2 linked regions of the Homo sapiens genome follow. The protein of the gene in region 1 interacts with the protein of each later gene in a pairwise test. Each region holds a gene or a part of one and is shown on either strand. Other genes may lie near its edges.

Region 1 (7,531 bases):
CCTGACCTCAAGTAATCCACTCACCTTGGCCTCCCAAAGTGCTGGGATTACAGGCATGAGACACGGCACCCAGCTGATCTTCCAAGTCTTAATATACAATGCATGCATGCATGCATGCATACACACTAGTAAATAATACATACACAGCAATACAGAATTATCATTACAAAGACAGCATCAAGCTACTGCAGCTGTATAGCCTTTTCTTTAAAATTCTTACATTATTTTAATTTCATTTCCAGGCTAATGCATATTCTTCTGCTCTATAATTTTAAAGTTTCCACAATGTTGTCTCTTATATAAAGGCAGTATCACTCGAGCAATGCCCCGTGGTTATTTTTAATCCAAATTTGCAGATGATGATCAAAGGATTAAAGAATGATTCATGTGGCTAAAGTTGCAGTTTGCTTGTTAAATATTTAGAAAGAAATAATGTCAAGGCCAGCCATGGTGGCTCATGCCTGTCATCCCAGCACTTTGGGAGGCAGAGGTGGGAGAATCACTTGAGGCCAGGATTTCAAGGTTGCAGCCAGTGATTGTGTCATAATTCCAGCGCACAAGACCAACCTGGGCGAACAGCAAGATGCCGTTTCTACAAAAAAAAAAAAAAATGCACAGCAGCCAGGGTGACAGAGCAAGACCTGGTCTCTAAAAAATTTAAAAGAGGCCGGGCGTGGTGGCTCACGCCTGTAATCCCAACACTTTGAGAGGCCGAGGCAGGTGGATCACGAGGTCAGGAGATCAAGACCATCCTGGCCAACATGGTGAAACCCCGTCTCTACTAAAAAAAAATAAAAAATAAAAAAAAAATTAGCCAGACGTGGTGGCGGGCACCTGTGGTCCCATTTACTCGGGAGGCTGAGGCAGGAGAACGGCATGAACCTGGGAGGCGGAGCTTGCAGTGAGCTGAGATCGCGCCAACGCACTCCAGCCTGGGCAACAGAGCAAGACTCAGTCTCAAAAAAAATAAATAAATTAAATAAAATAAAAAAACAGCAAATGCTCTCCTTGGATACTGAAGTCACTCTCTGAGGGATTCATGGGGGTTTTATAAGGATGAAATGTATCCTAGTGTTGGTGTATTGCTAGCGAATACTTAGTGCTTAATAAAATAACTAATATTTTGAAATTCCTTTGCTTGAGGAATTAGAGATGTGAAGAACAACAGATCAGAAAGCAAACTGCAAAATAAGGGATGTACAGCTGGGCGCGGTGGCTCACGCCTGTAATCCCATCACTTAGGAAGGCCGAGGTGGGCGGATCACCCGAAGTCAGGAGTTCGAGACCAGCCTGGGCAACATAATGAAACCCCGTCCCTACTAAAAACACAACACTTAGCCAGGCTTGATGGCAGGTGCCTGCAGTCCCAGCTACTCAGGAGGCTGAGGCAGGAGAATCACTTGAACCCAGGAGGCGGAGGTTGCAGTGAGCTGAGATCGCGCCAGTGCACTGCAGCCTGGTGACAGAGCGAGACTCTATCTCAAAAAAAAAAAGAAAAAGAAAAAGAAAAAAAGAAATTCCTTTGCTTGAGGAATGAGAGATTCGAAGAACAACTGATAAGAAAGCAAACTGCAAAATAAGGGAAGTAATTAATCCCCTCAAAAAGTCCACATTGGGGGCGGGCAGCTCATATCATGAGAGACTTTCAGACGAAATCAAGAGCAATGCCAGGAGTCCAACAGGGAGAAAAGAGAATTTGTAACCAAGCTCATTAATTCCAAAGCTTGATGAAACAGACAATTACCTAAAGGGAAAAGCTGTCTAAACTGACTCAGAAAGAGGTGGGAAACTTCAACAAGCAGTAGACGCCCAAGGAATTTTGAAAGCTGAGTTAGAATCGCTCTTCCGAAAATTCCTCAACCCATGCGGTTTTGAAGGTGAATCGTGGCGGTGTTTCAAAAGCAGACACTTTTAAAAATGCTAATTAGACGATTCTGCAATGTAAAGGGAGAAATAGAAAAGCTTCTCAAGGTTCTTTCTTTGTTTTGTAAACAAATTATTAAAACTTTAGTATCCCGACTTGAGATAGATAGGAAAGAAAGTAAATCTATAGCTCCCAGATACATATCACTTCAAAAGACCTCAAGGAGGACAGGCACGGTGGCTCACTACTGTATCCCAGCACTTCGGGAGACCGAGGCGGGCAGATTACTTGAGGTAGGTCAGGAGTTCGAGACCAGCTTGGCCAACATGGTGAAACCCTGTCTTTACTAAAAATACAAAAACTAGCCGGGCATGGTGGCGCACACCTGCAATCCCAGCTACTCAGGAGGCTGAGGCAGGAGAATCACTTGAACCCGGGAGGCAGAGGCTGCAGCGAGCCGAGATCACACCACGGCACTCCAGCCTGGTGATAGAGCTAGACTCCATCTCAAACAAACAAACAAAAAAACCCAAGGGAATGGCTGGGGCATGAAATCTTGCAGTGCTTAAGAAGTTAATGCATCACGACAACGAAGATCATTGCAGAAATGTGGGAGCTTTCAGCTGCTGGGTCTTAAAAACCAACACCCCAAAGTACGGTGCTTTGTCCTGCTGAACTGAAGAAGCCTCAAGATCTCTCTAACTTCCCCCTCCTGCTTCCTCTGTGTCTCCCGATGCACAGGATGAAGTTGTTCTCTGAAGTTTCCTGAAGTCTGGACATGTCAAAGAAGGAAAAATGACCAGTGTCCCCTTCCCTGAGTTTCTGAACCCACATCGCGGAGGAAAGACTGATGTCTGTCAACAGCCCTGCAGAGACTCCTCATAAACCACTGTCTGTTCTGAGGGTTCCACAGCCTCTGTCCCTGCAGAGACTCGTCATAAACCATTATCTGAGGCCAGGCGCAGTGGCTCACACCTATCATCCCAGCACTTTGGGAGCCCGAGGCGGGTGGATCACCTGAGGTCCAGAGTTCGTGACCAGCCTGGTCAGCGTGATGAAACCCCGTCTCTACTAAAAATACAAAATTAGCCAGGCGTGGTGTCACATGCCTGTAATCCCAGCTACTCGGGAAGCTGAGGCAGGAGAATCGCTTGAACCCAGGAGGCAGAGGTTGCACTGGGCAGAGGTCCCGCCACTGCACTCCACTCTGGGCAACACAGAACGAAACTCCGTCTCAAAAAAAACAAGCAAACAAACAACAATAACAAAAAACATTATCTGTTTTCGGGCCACTGTACATTGTTCAAACCCATTGACTTCTCTTTAAAATCATTTACTATTTGGAATCCTATATTCACCCCCAATTCCCCACTCCCCTTCCGCTAAGAAGAAGAGGACACAAGCGTCTGTACCCCTTTGTGTAATGGGGCAATTCCTCTGACATTCTCCTCCATGGATGAGAATACATTTGCCTGTCATTTCCTTTATTCATGTTTCAAAAAGGGCAATTGTATTTTGTGCGTTGATTTTTCAGCAAACCTTCAAATGGCAAAGGGGGATGTTTTTCCCTTGGCCCCTACCACAGCATCCCCAAACGGTCTCCAGCTCCTAAGAAGATTCATTTATGGGCACTACCTAGCTACACAGCGTCACCCACCGAGCTCGCACACAACCAAGGCTTTGGGGTGAGAATGTACAAATACATCACGGAATCCAAGCCCCCAACACCGCACACGCAGCCTGGAAGTGGTTGTGTCAGAGCTGTGTGAACCAGCGTGACTCCATCTTGAATAGGGGCTGGGTAACACGAGGCTGAGACCTGCTGGGCTGCATTCCCAGGCGGTTAAGGTATGCTAAGTCGCAGGATGAGATAAGAGGTTGCTACAAGGTACAGGTCATAAAAACCTTGCTGATACAACAGCTTGCAGTAAAGAAGCGGGCCAAAACCCACAAAAAGCAAAATGGCGACAAGAGTGACCTCCGGCTGTCGTGACGGCTACATTCCCACCAGCGCCAGGACAGTTACAAATGCCACGGCAATGTCAGGAAGTTACCCTCTACGGTCTAAAAAGGGGAGGCATGAATAATCCCCCCCTCGTTTAGCATATCATCAAGAAATCACCGTAAAAATGGCCAACCAGCGGCCGCCGGGGATGCTTTGTCTGCGGAGGAGCCATTCATTTACTCCTCTACCTTCTCAATAACTTGCTTCTCTTTCCACCACTGAGCCGTCCTGAATTCTTTCTTGCACGAGATCCAAGAACCCTCCCTTGGGGTCTGGACTGGGGACCCCCTTTCCTGTAGCATCTTCAGGTGCAGCCGTGAATCAGAGAAGCAGAAGGGGCTTACCTTGAAAAGCAACCAGCCGAGAAGCTTCTTCGCCAGACGGGTGGCCCAGAACACGTGCTTGTAGACGTCCGTGTTGACCACCCCGGGGTCCACCACGTTGGCGGTCACGTGGCTTCCCTCAGCCGCCAGCAGCCGCTGGAGGTGGTAGGTGAACAGGACAAGGGCCAGCTTGCTCTGGGCGTAGGCTGCGTGGGGTGAGTAGCAGGCACTGTGGGGCAAGCAGGAGAAGGTGTAAGAGGCTGACGGCGTTCACGCCTAAGTGCTTCATCCCAGCAGCATCTGTACCTGCGGCCACGGCCACGTCTATACGCAGCCACCTCCCCTAGACCCATGTGTGATCATGCCATCTGTTGGCCAGTTTTCCAACGCGTGTGGATTTTTCTAGTTCACCTTTTTATTATAAACTCATCCCTTAATTGTATTGGGGTCAGATATGTTAAATTATGTTACTAATTTTTTATTTATTTATTTATTTATTTTGGAGACAGAGTCCCCCCTCTGTCGCCCAGGCTGGAGTGCAGTGGTGCAATCTTGGCTCACTGCAACCTCCACCTGCCCGGTTCAAGTGATTCTCCTACCTCAGCCTCCCCAGTAGCTGGGACTACAGGTGCCCGCCACCACACCCTGCTAATTTTTTGTATTTTCAGCAAAGATGGAAGTTTTACCATGTTGGCCAGGCTGCTCTCGAACTCCTGACCTCAAATTATCCACCCGCTTCAGCCTCCCAAAGTGCTGGGATTACAGGCAGGAGCCACTATGCTCCCTGTTTTTTTTTTTTTTTTTTTTTTTTTTTTTTTTTTGAGACAGATTCTCACTCTGTCACCCAGGCTGCAGCCTCCCGGGTTCAAGCGAATCTCGTGCCTCAGCCTCCAGAGTAGCTGGGATTACAGGCTCCTGTCACCACGCCCGGCTAATTTTTTGTATTTTTAGTGGGAACAGGGTTTCACCATGTTGGCCAGGCTGGTCTTGAACTCCTGACCTCGGGTGATCCACCCTCCTTGGCCTCCCAAAGTGCTGGGATGACAGGCATGAGCCACCGCGCCTGGCCACATGTGGTCTTCTTGATGAGTCTCAAATCATAAAAGACAACCACACAAGCAATTTGGCAAACTTCCCAAGCTATCATAAATTTTCCTCACATCTACTGCAAGCTCTGTAGTGTGCTAAGCACATGTTAAACTCTTTGCACCTTGGTTCAAGCAGTTTAGAGAAATGTTTTAGTATCACAGGACATAGTGATAAAAATCGATCCGATAACCGCGGTAAAGTGAGTAACGTGCCTCTCTCTCTCTCTCTGGTAACCTCAATCACCAGAAACACAGAAAACTGGATGTTTCCAGCTTTGCTCCTGTAAATATGTTCTACTTTTTCTATGTATGCCTTAGAAACACTTTTTAAAGAGATGTTATTTGCGGTGTTACATAACGTCCCTTGAAGGCACACAACCACCATAGACTCCTTTTAGAATTTAATGCTAGGCACAGATCATTAGCCTTAGAATTGGCCTCATAGTTCTTTTCAATAAGACAAGGAGAAGTATTTGAGCAATAATGTTTTTCTTTCCTCTGGGGCTCCAAAGATGCCCAGAGGCGATCAATTTGCTACACAATTATCGTAACAACATTTCAAGGTGGCTGAAGGTTCATATCGCTTGCTTCTTTTATATATATATATATTTTTAAATTTTATTTTTATTTATTTATTTTTGAGACAGAGTCTTGCTCTGTCAACCCAGCTGGAGTACAGTGGCGTGATCTCGGCTCACTGCAAGCTCCTCCTCTCGGGTTCAAGTCATTCTCCTGCCTCAGCCTCCCAAGTAGCTGGGACTATAGGCGCCTGCCACCTGCCTGGCTAATTTTTTGTATTTTTAGTAGAGACGAGGTTTCACCATGTTAGCTAGGATGGTCTCGATCTCCTGACCACGTGATCTGCCCACCTCGGCCTCCCAAAGTGCTGGGATTACAGGCATGAGCCACTGTGCCCGGCCTAATTTTCTGAATTAACCACATGGTATATGTATCCTGATGGAAGCTGTGAACAGAAAATATCTGGGCACCCCAAAAGCGGGAAGCTCAAAGGAAAAGTCCAGCTGGAACCTGCTGAAGGCAAACCTGCCTCCCACTCTGTTCAAAGTCACCCCTGTGCTCACTGAGATAGATGCATATCTGATCACCTCCTTTGGGAAGGCTCATCACAAACCCAAAAGAATGTAACCATCTGTGTCTCACCTACCTGTGAGCTGGAAGCCCCCTCCCTGCTTCCAGTTGTCCCTGCTTTTCAAGGACTATACTTCTTATTTTTTTGAGACAGAGTTTTGCTCATATTGCCCAGGCTGGAGTGCAGTGGCACAATCTTGGCTCACTGCAACCTCTACCTCCTGGGTTCAAGCCATTCTCCTGCCTCAGCCTCCCGAGTAGCTGGGATTACCAGCGCCCGCCACCACGCCCGGCTAATTTTTTGTATTTTTAGTAGACATGGGGTTTCACCATGTTGGCCAGGCTGGTCTCGAACTCCTGACCTCAGGTGATCCGCCTGCCTCGGCCTCCCAAAGTGCTGGGATTACAGGCGTGAGCCACCGCACCCACCCCAACGTAGCTCTTACATATATTGATTGATGTCTCCTGTCTCCCTAAAATGTATAAAACCAAGCTATGGCCAGACGCAGTGGCTCATGCCTGTAATCTCAGCACTTTGGGAGGCCAAGGCGGGCGGATCACAAGGTCAGGAGTTTGAGACCAGGCTGGCCAACATGGTGAAACCCTGTCTCTACTAAAAAAAAAAATTAAAAAATTAGCCAGGCATGGTGGCATGTGCCTGTAGTCCCAGCTACTCCGGAGGCTGAGGCAGGATAATTGCTTGAACCTGGGAGGCAAAGGGTGCAGTGAGCTGAGATTGTACCACTGCACTCCAGCCTGGGCAAGAGAGTGAGACTCCATCTCAAAAAAAACAAAAAAACAAAAAAACACACAAACAAAAAAAAAACAAGCTGTGACCTGACCACGTTGCACACGTCATCAGGACTTTCTGAGGCTATGTCACAGGCTCACGTCCTTAAATTTGGCAAAACAAACTCTAAATTAACTGAGACCTGTCTCAAATTTTCAGGGTTCACAAAGCCATCTCAGATATAGTTTGAATATCAGCATGATATTTATGCTAAAAAACTAAAGATAAGATCAAAAAGCCTAAAAGAATGTTTAACACATTCAAAAGATCAAAAGAAAGACATCCGTCATCATATGCGTTTCAGAAAAAGCTTCTGAAAATCCAATGCCTCTTACCAACAAAAGCTGTTCCTAAATAAGAATACAATATTGA
Region 2 (7,531 bases), on another chromosome or scaffold:
GCTGTGATTGGCAGACACCCTCAGCTCCTCAGCCAAACCACACTTGGATGTTTATGGTGAGGGTGGGACTAAGAAATGGAACAGAAGCAGAGCTAAATCGCTTTGATTGGCTGTTCATCGAAGGGGCGGGGAAGACTTAACAACTGCTAGCTGCTTTGATTGGCTGCTTTGCTTAAGCACACAGTGCAGCAAAAATAATCACCTGTCAGTTATTGGAAGTTGGAGTGAAAAGTATAATAACCGTAATTGACAGCCTGTCGTGAAGGAGGCGGGGCTTAGTTCCTAGCCTGCTGACTGGGCAGGGAGGTAGGTTCTACTCAGGAGATGTTACTGCTGGGCGTGGCTTGCGGGGGCTCGGAAGTGATCGGAGCCACTGGGTCTAGTTTGGGGAAACCCGGGGGTGGGTACAATCCCATGCTGGGGGTCAGGGCCTGCAGATGCGCCAGGGCCCGAGTTCCGTTGAAGGTCACCTCACAGCCTGACTTGGCTAGGAGCCAGTTCTCCACCTCCGACCGGAGCCACCTGGAGGTCTCTGCAAGGGGAGAGGCAGGTGTTCTGAGGTCACACTGAGATCGGGGAAGATTCGAGGGAGCAGCAAGGAGGGGCGTAGGGCAAAGAACAGGAAGGGCCTGGGTTTGGGAGAAGCCTAGGAGTGATCTTGAGGCTTGGAGGGGAGCGGAACAAGGCCCAGGAGGGTCGAGAGGGCCAGAAGGCCCAGCTCTGGGGCTTTCGTCTGGGGACCAGTCAGGGGCTCTTGGGCAGGGAAGGTGGGGGCTCCTGTAGGCAAGGGGACCACCTGGAGCCCACACAGGGAGCGCGCAGGATCTCTTGTAGGGAGAGTGTCAGCTCAGGTAGAGGAAAGAATGACAGGAGGGGGCCGTGCCATGGAGCCAAGACTCCCAACCAGGCTGAGGTTAAGAAAGGGCTGTCACATCAGGCACCAAGATCGGAGTCTGGATTCGGAGGTCCTGTCTGCTGAGGGCCGGGGTCTCTTCGCAAACCCGTCAGGTTCACCCGTGGGAACTGGGGGTGGGGACGCATCTCGCTGGGGCGGGGCCTCGCGGGGGTGTGGCCCCTGGGGGCAGGGTCCCAGGGCCACGTCCTACCTTCGGGCGAGCCTTGAGTGCCCCCTGGCCGCCGGGCCAGGAAGCTGTGAGCCAGCAGCGCCTCCTTGGTGTGCTCGTCCTGCGCGCGCAGGGCCAGGGCGCTGAGCAGCTCCGAGTTGTTGGACGTACTGCGATAGTACAGCATGTGCGCCAGCTCCAACGCCTGCGCGCTGCGCCGCTGCCCGAACATCTGCAGGCGGGACAGCGCCCCGTGGGCTCAGTTCGGGGTGCGCCCCCACCCATACACAGCCCCCGGGGTCACCCCCGCTGGCACGGCCCACGCCGCTTACTCCCCTGAGGAGGCGGGGAGGTCCTACCCAGACCTCTTCAGTACGGGTCCCCAGAGCTCAGTCGAGGGATCTATTTGGGGATTTTTGGGGTCTGTCTTTTCTTTTTCTTTCTTTTTCTCTCTTTCTTTCTTTCTTTCTTTCTTTCTTTCTTTCTTTCTTTCTTTCTTTCTTTCTTTCTTTCTTTTTCTTTCTTTCTTTCGTTCTTTCTTTCTTTTCTTTCTTTCTCTTTCTTTCTTTTCTTTTCTTTCTTTCTTTTTCTTCCTTCCTTCCTTTCTTTCTTTTCTTTCCTTTTTTTTTTTTTTTCGACAGGGTCTCGCCCTGTAGCCCAGTCTGGAGTTCAGTGGCTATTCACAGGCAAACTCATAACGCACTGAAGCTTTGAACTCCCGGGCTCAAGCGATCCTCCCGCCTTGGCCTCCTAAGTAGCTGGGACTACAGGTGTGCGCCACCAAGCCCGATATTTTTTGTAGAGACGGGATTCTCCCTGTGTTGACCAGGCTGGTCTCAAACTCCCAGCCTGGAGTGATCCTCGCTCCTCAGCCTCCCATAGTGCTGGGGTTACAGGCGTGACCCAAGGCACCGGCTGGGGATCTGTATTTTTAACACACGTGCCCTCATTCCAGTGGCTCCAAGACCACCAGCCCCATCTGGCCTACAGTTTTCAGCAACCACTGCACTGGTTTGCTCATCTGAGCCATGTATTAATGGATTTACCCAAAGGTTTGCAGATGATAGGAGTTTTAGCTTTGAAAGATTTTGTTACAATACATCCTTATGTTTTAGAGACATAATAAAGTATTTCCAAATAAGTCTAGGTAGGATTTACTTCAAAATCATCCAATAGTAGGACAGTGGAGGTCTTCAGGGGAAATCTGATTAACTATTGCTAATTGTTGATGCTAGGTGCTGGCTAGTGGAGTTTATCATACTATCCTATTTCTGTGTTTGTTTGAACTTTTCTATAATGAAGGAAAAAATGGTTTAAAATATTAAACTGTAGGCCAAGTGCAGTGGCTCAGGCCTGTAATCCCAACGCTGAGAGGCCAAGGTGGGTGGATCACCTGAGCCCAGGAGTTCAAGACCAGCTTGGGCAACATGGCAAAAGCTTCATCTCTACAAAAAATTAAAATTAAAAAACAATAGCAGGCTGGGCTCAGTGGCTCACGCCTGTAATCCCAGCACTTTGGGAGGCCAAGGCAGGTGAATCACCTGAGGTTGGAAGTTCGAGACCAGCCTGACCAACATGGAGAAACCCGTCTCTACTAAAAATACAAAATTAGCCGGGCATGGTGGCTCATGCCTGTAATCCCAGCTACCCGGGAGGCTGAGGCAGGAGAATCGCTTGAACCTGGGAAGCAGAGGTTGCAGTGAGCCGAGATCATGCCATTGCACTCCAGCCTGGGCAACAAGAATGAAACTCTGCCTCAAAAAATAATAATAATAATAATTAGCTGGGTGTGATGGTGAGCACCTGTAGTCCCAGCTACTCATGAGGCTGAAGCAGGAGAATCACCTGAACCCAGGAGGCTGAGGCTACAGTGAGCCATGATCATACCACTGCACTCCAGGCTGGGCAACAGAGTGAGACCCTGTCTCAAAAAAAGAAAAAAGTTAAATTGTAAAGAGAAGAGGAGAGGGGAAGGATGTTGGGGGGAAGAACAGGTCTGGGCCCAGCTGTCTACTGGCTGCCCACTTCCCCACCGTTAGTCTCTTTGCTTGGACCCCTCTTCTCATCCTTGATATTGGTAAGGAGAAATGAGGGCATCAGTGCCCTCTGGGCTCCCACTGAAAAACTGTGCCCAGGCCAGATGCAGTGGCTGACACCTGTAATCCCTGCACTTTGGGAGGATGAGGAGGGCAGATCACTTGAGGTTAGGAGTTCGAGACCAACCTGGGCAACATGGTGAAACCCCATCTCTACTAAAAATACAAAAATTAGACCTGGCACGGTGGTTCATGCCTGTAATTCTAGCACTTTGGGAGGCCGAGACGGGCAGATCACTTGAGGTCAGGAGTTCGAAACCAGCCTGGCCAACATGGTGAAACCTTGTCTCTACTAAAAATACAAAAAAAAAAAATTAGTCAGGTATGGTGACAGGCACCTGTAATCCCAGCTACTTGGGAGGCTGAGGCAGGAGAGTCGCTTGAGCCCGGGAAGTGGAGGTTGCAGTGAGCCAGGATTGCGCCACTGCACTCCAGCCTGGGCAACAGAGTGGGACTCTGTCTCAAAAAAATAAATAAATAAAAATACAAAAATTAGTCAGGTGTGTGTCATGTGCCTGTAATTCCCGCTACTCAGGAGGCTGAGGCAAGAGAATCTCTTGAACCCGGGAGGCAGAAGTTGCAGTGAGCCGAGATCGTGCCACGGCACTTTAGCCTGGGCGACAGAGTGACACTGTGTCTCAAAAAAAAAAGCGGTCGGGCGCAGTAGCTCACGCCTGTAATCCCAGCACTTTGGGAGGCCGAGGCGGGTGGATCACGAGGTCAGAAGATCAAGACCACGAGGTCAGGAGATCGAGACCATCCTGGCTAACACGGTGAAACCCTGTATCTACTAAAAATACAAAAACAAAATTAGCTGGGCGTGGTGGTGGGTGCCTGTAGTCCCAGCTACTCAGGAGGCTGAGGCAGGAGAATGGCGTGAACCTGGGAGGCGGAGCTTGCAGTGAGCTGAGATCGCACCACTGCACTCCAGCCTGGGTGACAGAGCAAGACTCAGTCTCACAAAAAAAAAAAAGAAAAAAGAAAAAAAAGAAAACCTGTACCTGTACCCAGATTCCTCCATTCAGCCACAAAATGAGCTCAGGGCCACTGGACCCTGTAGCTGGCAGGCCTGGCTGCCTGACCCACTAAACCCTTACCGGCTGCCCCTGGTAAGACCTAAGTCCTCAGTCAGCACTGTCTGTACAACAATGCCAATGCCAGGGAGGGTTCAGGAAGTCAATACACGGTTAATAAAACATTGGGACAGCCGGGCGCGGTGGCTCACGCCTGTAATCCCAGCACTTTGGGAGGCCGAGGCGGGCGGATCACGAGGTCAGGAGTTCAAGACCAGCCTGGCCAACATAGTGAAACCCCGTCTCTACTAAAAATACAAAAAATTAGCCAGGCATGGTGGCGGCGCCTGTAATCCCAGCCACTTGGGAGGCTGAGGCAGGAGAATGGCTTGAACCCAGGAGGCAGAGGTTGCAGTGAGCTGAGGTTGCACCACTGCACTCCAGCCTGGGGGACAGAGCGAGACTCCATCTCAAAAAAAGAAGAAAAAAAAAAAACATTGGGACAAAGCCTGGCCCCTCAGAAACACTTACCAAACATCAGCTACTATGGAACAGTCACCCACACCCTGTGCTGGGTGCCCATAGGGTGTTCCCATCTCACACCGAGGCCTGAGGTGAAATGCCTCTCAAGTCAGCGCACCCCAGAAAATCGCTGAAATGGCCTGCAAGGTACCAATGACACGCTTGCATGTGGACTGTACCCTCTTCTCACCAGGCCAGCACAGTCAGTTTAGGTGCCTGCATTGGAACGAATCGCCATTTCTTCGGTTGAGGGCAAGATGCAGGAATAGCATGCGTTAGGGACCGTGTGGTATGAAAAACACATTGGGTTTGTGTCAGTATCTGCCAAGCCGATGGAGCTGAATTCTAGTTAAAGGAGCAGGTCACTCTGTGGCACACAGATGAAGCCAGAGTCTCCCTGGAGAGGGGTCCCCCTGCCACCCGGAGGGTCCCTTCAGCACTACCGCTGCCCACAAGGAATACAGCACTCGCTCCTCCTACCCTGGGGTCTATGTCTTGGGCAGCCCCTCCACCTACTCAGTCACAGGCCAGGCCCCTGGCACCATCCTTGCTCCCCCTTCGCCAACCTGTCAGTCCCAACCCCATTCTGCAGTCCCCTGACTCTCTCTGCCCGTCTCCTCCTCTGCAGCTCCCCAGCTCATCCTTGGCTCAGACTTTATCCCCGCCTGCATCACTCCAGCCTCCTCCCTGGCCTCAGTCTCCCCGTCCAGTTTGTCTGCACATAGGTTCAGAGCTGCCCCTGCCCCTCCCCTGCTCATGGTCCTCCCATGGCTCCCCAGTGCTCTCAGAGTCCAAGCTCCGTGGCCCGGCACACGAGGCCCTCCCTGTCACCTCCTGCTCCTCCCCTGTGAATGCAGCGCATGCTGAAAAAGCCGGTTTACCCTGAACAGGTCCTGCTCTCTCAGGCCTCCAGGCCCAGGCACAAGCCAAACCACCCCTGGTGTGTTCTTGGAAAATGTTCACTGCCTCATCCTCAAGGCTCAGGATGGACATCACCTCTCGCGGACGAGCAGATGCAGCCTCGGGCTCCTGCTGTGCCAGCTGCCGCCTCCATTACAGACCGACTGCCTGTGTCCAGGGACCCCACACCTCTCCCTCCAGGGCAGGATCGGGCTGCTGCATCTCAGGGGCACCAGTTCAACATCCCTCCCCAGGCTGCCCCATGGGCCTGCTTGGTGCTGGGCTAAGGGGCTTCACAGTAGAGCCCAGGGTATGGAGGAACCCACAGGGGCACCACCCCAGCCTGGGACATCCGGGAAGGCTTCCCAGAGCAGGCAGCCTCTGAGCTGAGGGTGAGGGGTGAGCAGGGGTTGGCCAGCCCAACAAGAGGAAAGGGCATTTCAGTCCAAGGGAACAGCACAGGCAAAGGCAGAGAACGAGGGATGGCAGGGTGGGGGCGCCGCAAGCATGCAGGAGGAGCTGAGGCGCAGATTCGAGGGGAAGGATTGTGTCCAGTGAGGCTGGGAAGCAGGGTCCCTGGTGCCAGGCTGTGCCCAGAGGAGGGGCAGGGCAGGACTGGGTAGAATGGGGAATGGGCTGGAAGGGACCAACTGGAGGCTGGGAAGAGGGCCTGAGCAGGGGGCACAGAGGTGGGACAGGAAGGGTGGGCTGGGGGTCTAGCCAGTGACTGGCGGGATGACAGGTCATCCTTAGATGCGGAGCCCAGAAGAGAAGATGTCAGGGGAGACGCTGTGCTTGGCCTACAGTGAGAGTGAGGGCCCCAGCCGGGAGGCTGAGCCTGGAGCTTCTTGGTTGATCTGATCATGGACAGTAGAGAGCTCCTGTGGAAACCACAGAAGCAGAGCAGCCCTGTGTCTTGGAAGAAAGAGGGCCCCATACTCCGCATCCCGCACCTTGCTCCCCGCACCCCTTATCCCGCAGTGGGGCTCTGAGTGCCTGTTCCAAGGTGAGATGGGGAACTTGAGAGGAGCAGGAGGGTTGAGGCAGCTGGACTCTGGGCTCATGGGGACACGCTGCACATGGGCTTGGGTGTGTCCAGGGAACAGGAGAAGCCAGATTAGGGGACTAGGGGAGGGGCTTGCAATGAAGACAGAGATCTGGGAGCAACTGAAGCGCAGGAGGGGACCAGCCAGGAGGGAGTCTGGGAGGGCCAACTGTTTTTTTGTTTCTTTGTTTGTTTGTTTGTGTTGGGATGGGAGTCTCGCTCTGTCACCGAGGCTGGAATGCAGTGGCGCAATCTCAGCTCACTGCAACCTCCACCTCCCGAGTTCAAGTGATTCTCCTGCCTCAGCCTCTCAAGTAGCTGGGATTTCAGGCATGCGCCACCACGCCTGGCTAATTTTTGTATTTTTAGTAGAGATGGGGTTTCACTACGTTGGCCAGGCTGGTCTCGAACTCCTGACTGCATGTGATCTGCCTGCCTCAGCCTCCCAAAGTGCTGGGATTACAGGTATGAGCCACTGCACCCAGCCAAGGGCCCACATGTAAAGGCTGGGCCTCACCCCAAGGCGTGGGGAAATACCTCATGAATTCATGAATACACTAAATTAACTTGTCAACTGGGATTTTTTTTTTTTTTTTTTTTTTTGAGATGGAGTCTCACTGTGTCGCCCAGGCTGGAATACAGTGATGCCATCTCAGCTCACTGCAACCTCTGCCCCCTGGGTTCAAGTGATTCTCCTGCCTCAGCCTCCAGAGTAGCTGGGATTACAGGCATGTGCCACCATGCCCAGCTAATTTTTGTGTTTTTAGTAGAGATGGGGTTTCACCATCTTGGCCAGGCTGGTCTTGAACTCCTGACCTCGTGATCCACCCGCCTCGGCCTCCCAAAGTGCTGGGATTATAGGTGTGAGCCATTGCGCCTGGCTGGGCTTTT

The links. The genes of interacting proteins can lie anywhere in the genome.
Region 2: the proteins of DHRSX (region 1) and TMEM143 interact in binary tests that used the Homo sapiens proteins (3 or more experiments, as listed by UniProt).

The regions. Positions count from the first base shown.
Region 1 is NC_000023.11:2,238,810-2,246,340, forward strand, and holds part of DHRSX (polyprenol dehydrogenase), read right to left. Parts: intron 4,422-7,531; coding exon 4,214-4,421; intron 1-4,213. UniProt on the Homo sapiens protein: Oxidoreductase that plays a key role in early steps of protein N-linked glycosylation by mediating two non-consecutive steps in dolichol biosynthesis.
Region 2 is NC_000019.10:48,332,902-48,340,432, forward strand, and holds part of TMEM143 (transmembrane protein 143), read right to left. Parts: intron 1,297-7,531; coding exon 1,107-1,296; intron 533-1,106; coding exon 318-532; 3' UTR 1-317.